Linked DNA regions of Homo sapiens: region 2 is linked to region 1. The links come from fine-mapping of genetic effects on gene expression. Tissue or cell type: whole blood. Region 1 holds a variant in brackets; the other region holds the start of a gene. All regions are shown on one strand. Distances are from middle to middle.

Region 1 (2,763 bases):
GTAGACTCTTAGGCCACTACAAATTTTTTTTCTGATATTCATTATCATGCATACAATTTGCCCTTTACATTTTTGTCTGTTGTATGAAGTCCTCATTCTCAAATTTACTTGTCCCAGCACACACAGATTAACATTCCATTTTCGCACTGTAGTGTTCTTTATTAGGCTTACAAAGTTCTTCTGAGACATGGTGTTTGATTCTTTGATATGTCTATTCCAGAGAACCAATTGTAAACCAATGATCTGGGGTTTTTTTGTTTGTTTGTTTGTTTTTGTTTGTTTGTTTGTTTTGTTTTGAGACAGAGTTTTGCTCTTGTTGCCCAGGCTGGAGTGCAATGGTGCGATCTTGGCTCACTGCAACCTCTGCCTTACCAGGGTTCAAGCGATTCTCCTGCCTCAGCCTCCCAAGTAGCTGGAATTACAGGTGCCCGCCACCACACCTGGCTAATTTTTTGTATTTTTAGTAGAGATGGGGTTTCACCATGTTGGCCAGGCTGGTCTAGAACTCCTGACCTCCGGTGATCCACCTGCCTTGGCCTCCCAAAGTGCTGGCATTGCAGGTATGAGCCACCACACCTGGCCCCAGTGATCTGTTTTTATGAATTGAGAATAGAAGACAGCATAATAGTAACAAAAAATGTAAATTTATCAAACAACATACAAATTATATGAAGATATGCCATAAACTTTATCCTGTTTTCTGACTGTTAGCACATGGATAAACTAAACAATATAGTCCTTTAGTGCATGTGTAACCAGTGTAAATGTTCTAAGAATGAAACAAAACATCTGTGAAAATAATCATTAAAGTTATATGCCATATTTGTGAAATGCATGTGAACCAAATTTTTCCATCATATTTTCCTCTAAAAGTGCCAAACAGCCTACCAAACTACATGGTATGCTTTCTGTATCCTAAGGGACTCTGTTTCTAGCCCTTTCCTTTCTTCAAGGGTTTCAATCATTATCTGCTAAATCCTCTTTTCTCATTTTAACCCAATTCAAAAACTATAGATTGAGCTCCTCTCTATGAAATACTCCATAACCATCGTGACCTGGGCACAGGTCAAAGACAGTCCCCCACACCCCTCAGATACCCCATATGACAGAAGGCAGGGTTAGGCTCTGTGAAACCAGACAGGCTGTGGAATCCTAAGACCGAGGGCACAGGAAACAAGCAAAGGGCTGAAAAAGCCCACAGGGGCAAGAAGTCAAGCCTGACCCTCCCCCAGTACTTGAGAATATACTTGAATGTGCTTGTTTGATCTAGCTAACTCCTCTAACTGCCTTTTTCTTTTTTTTCTTTGCATTTACTGACATACTCTCAAAAGAATGCTCTAGGATCCATGGTTTCCATTGCTTCATCACTTACTTCCTCCTTACCCATTGCAACATACCTCACAGCTTCAACACTACAGCATTCTCTGTGGTAATCGTT[C/G]TCTCCCTGTTTCTTTTCCACTACGTTACATGAGTGCCTCTCAGGGGAGCAGGGGGACATTTCAGACTGGCCGGTAAGACTCTGTCAGCCTCCCCCTCAGAATCACCTAAGTCACTGGTTCTCAACCATTGCACATGAAGATCACGTGGGGAGATTTTAAAAGATACCAATGCCCAGGCTTTGTAATGAGTCAGCTTGGCTAGGCTAAACAACATTTCCCAGAATGCCCTTTCTGGTTAGGGTGGGCCACAAAAGAGATTTGGGGGCAATTTTGGGGGTAGGAAGTGAAGCAACCTCCATTTCATAGCCCTCATATATTGTCGCTTATCTGCTGGCTCATCTTATTGTCATAAACCTGCAACTAGACCTGCACCTGGGCCAGGTGATGTTGTTAGCCCTGTGACAAAGGGCCCCAGTTTCTGCAGGACACCCACACCAGCCAGGTCAGAGGCAACAGGAAGTGACATGGGTTTTAGTCCCTCATTATGGGCACCAGCTGGTTCTCACTTTTTCCATCCATCCCCCATTTCACATCCTTCTCCCCTTCCTGTCTGACTGTCCTGTCCTTCAGGCTTCAGCATCAGACACAAAGACAACACCTTACAGAGACTACTTACCCAGCTCCCACAATTGCATATGCTCAAATTCCTGTAACAGATCCCTTCATGTATAGGTATGCTTCTTCAAGTGAACCCTGCCTGAGAAACTCCTCCAAACCAATTATGTCTGATGGTCAGAGGTGAAGCCCAGACATGAGAATGTGTTAAAAGTTCTCTGGATGTTTCTAACATGGTTAAACACCATCTGCCCTAGGGTAAAAACCTCTACATGCAATTGCAAATCCTTGCCAGAGTAAGCCTATAGTGGATGGGAATCCTTCAGCTGAGCTAGCCTTGAGAAAAACCTAAAATCCTGCCCTACTCTATGTGTTTTTCCTGATTTATTCTTCCTTTTCCTTTTTCACAAAGCTAGCCTCTGCCCACCTCACAGACCACTGCAATCTATCAATCTCTAGTCTTTCCTCCCTCCCCACCTATAGCCTATAGACTGATCTGGAAATGTAAACATAACATCCCTCCATGCTCAAAGGCTTTCAGCAACTCCCTGTCCTCCAGGGATCAAATCTAATCTCCTTACCTGGTATTCAAACCCCTCCAGAGTCTGGCTTCTTCCTACCTGGCCAACCTATCCTCCCCCTCCCTTCCCACTATAAACCCTACCAGCTTTCTGAACCTCCATCAACCAAAGAAAGAATAAAGCAGTGATCACACAATAAAAAGGGAAAGGTTTTCTCTTGGCCTTCTTGGATTCTGCTAACCACCAAA
Region 2 (2,631 bases), 68 kb after region 1:
ACTTCAACGAAATTAAAAATCAAGGCACGTCACAGAAATTAAGGAAGGAAGAAAAAAGGGAGGGAGGGAGGAAGAGAGAATGGTAGAAAGGAAGGAAGAAAAAAGTAGGAATGAAAACATAAAACAACATAAACCAACATAAAATACAGAAAATAATGATCCTCAGTCAAGTTCCTTCAGCATTATATTAACCTTTCTTCACTTCTAACCATCTGCAGAAACTGTTTTCCAGATTGTATTTTCCCTCTAAAGCAAGTTTTTAAGGCCGAAAAAAAAAAAAGAACAAGAACAGTGAGTGGAGAATCAACAAATTTAATTAGCAATGATTACAGAAAACTTAAATAGCACACACAACTCTATAATCCCTCTACCCCCAATTCCAACATCTGACTGATCAACCAACCATAAAATGTGAGAATCCATCCAGAAGGAAAGAACAGCTGTTAAGCTGTAGGGGTAAGGACCCTGTGGCAGAAGACCCTGAGGCCATGTGGGCCCAGGTGGCCAGCAGGAGCGGAAAGGCTGGGAAGGCTCCTCAGTCCAGGGCTCACAAGACTCCCTTCGCTTCAGGCCTGACTTTGCTGAACTGGTGATCTATTGGGACAGAGACAGGCTTTGGCAATAGTTACCAAAGCCTGTCATCATATCTGCACCACCACCAGTCCCGACCGGAGGGCCTGGCTGCCAGGTAGTTTTCAGTCTAACTGACAGGAGAAGAGAGAGCCCCTCCCTCGCAGCTAGTCTGCAGTCCAGACCCTCACCAACCGGAGGGCAACCAGGTTAAACAGTTAAACTGAAAGCAAAAGAGGGAGGAATGAACCGGGGGGCGTGCGGGAGGTCGGGGACTTTCCTCCTTTCCCTCCTGGAAAGTTTCCTACCCCTGATGGGCATCCTCCCACCTGGATGCAACCCGGAGGCGATCTGAGACCCTGGCCGGACCTGGGACCGCACCTGGCCAGCACCAGGCAGTTGTCATCACTGGGGTCTGCGCTGAGGGCCTGGGAGAGAAGCCACTCTTCAGGCGGGCTCGGGCGCCTGGAGGCGGGGAGGAAGGGCGGCGCACTCGGACCCCAGCCCTAGGACGGCCCCAGGGGGACGCCTCGCTCGGCCCTCCCGGAGGGACCGGACCCGCCGCGCGCCTCCCGCTCCTCAGGCCCCCTCACCTGGCTCGCCCCGCCGTCCTGTCCCCGCCTGGCTCGGGTCCTCGCGCGCCGCGTCCACCCGCCGCCGGCCTTTTTTGGGTCGTTGGCGGGTATTTTCCGCCTGGCCCCACATCACTTCCCGTAAAGGAGAGCGAGGTGGGGCGGGACCTTCTCTCCTCCACCTCCCGCCTTCTCCTGTCACCTCGGGAGCGGCCCCCGCCCGGCTGGCGGGGGGCGGGGTGCTGTCGCGCTCTCCCCGGCGGCCGCGCCTCCGAGGGGTCCTCTGTGAGCCCCGAAAAGGCCCCGCTCGCCTCCTTTGTCCCAACACTAGTTTCCGCTGCCCCATTCTGGAAGGCGCTACAAAATATAGGAGTGTTTTCGTTTTGGGACACAGGAGGGACATTTACAAACTGCACCAAGGACCGGTGCGCGGCGAGGTGTCGTTTGGGGACTCTCCCCTATTCACCTCCCCAAAAAGCCATGTTCTAAGGGTGTTTTCCACGGCATCAGTTCGCGGTCGCCACCGTAGCAGCCGGAGGTGCCGGGCGTACTCACGCCGGCCCCGCCCGAGGTTCCCGAGTCCGCGCGGCTCCTGAGGCGGCGTCCCAGGCCCGGCCCTGCCCCCGGCTTCCCGCCCCTGCGGCTCCTGGCTTAGGTCGGCCTGGACACGGCGTTTCCGGGGCAAGGGAATGCCCAGGATTCCTGGAAATAACATGGGAGAAAAATAAGTAAAAAATTTCGCAGGAAAAAAATCAATGTAATTCCGGGAGGAAATGGCAAACGGAGTCTCTGCTCACACTGTGTAATTCAAGAATATAAAACCACTGTAAATTTCTAAGAGTGTTAGAGCAATGAGTTTAAAAAGAAGAAAACTACAGTATGTTAAGGAACCGCCTCTGTCGGAAGAAACCTGCGCGCCTTTGCTGCCACCCAGCGGCTCTCTTCTCCCAGCGCCAACGGTGTCGCTCCGGCCTGCGGGGTAGTGAACCTGGGACTGCGTAGGGGGTCAGACCTCGTGGTTCCCACTCAGAGGCAGCCAAGTTCATCCCTCTCAGTGGCCAGGAGGTGTGAACAGCAGCCCTTGGGCCTGTCCCTATGGAGTCTAAGGCAAAGGCCCTTTGAACCAAATGTTTCCACTTCTAAGCAGAGTAAAATGTTGAGAAGCCTTAGTTCAGCTTCCCTTCTGCCTTCTAAGCCGTCTCGCTGACTTGTGTCTACCTCCACCGCAAATTCCAGCTGTCGCAGGCCCACCCGGTCAACTCCATCACCTTTCCAGTCTGTAGCTACTCACAGTTGGCATTACAGCAGTTAGCTTCTCAGGTGGGTCCAATTTACAAAATCACATATAGGATGAACCATATGAAATTACAAACAGTTGGCAATTTCATACATTTGATATAACATTTCCAGGCAAACATAACACAGTAAACTCGGGTTTAGAGATAACAAATGTCCTAACAGGTTGATAACTTCAAGAGCTCTTCCCGTG

Evidence for each region. PIP is the estimated chance that this variant, and not a neighbour inherited with it, causes the effect.
Region 2: it holds the start of RAB27A, and the variant in region 1 is fine-mapped to the expression of RAB27A in whole blood (TOPMed, PIP above 0.99).

Annotation. Positions count from the first base shown.
Region 1 is chr15:55,219,989-55,222,751 of GRCh38, forward strand. All of the region lies in intron 6 of RAB27A (RAB27A, member RAS oncogene family), which reads right to left. Among named protein-coding and RNA genes, the nearest start is that of RSL24D1, 24 kb to the left of the region's middle. The variant C/G (reference allele first, on the strand shown) is at 1,439.
Region 2 is chr15:55,288,553-55,291,183 of GRCh38, forward strand. RAB27A (RAB27A, member RAS oncogene family) reads right to left here and starts at 1,261. Exons shown (of 7, transcript NM_183235.3): 1 at 1,164-1,261. RefSeq lists a silencer at 949-1,478 and an enhancer at 1,579-1,728.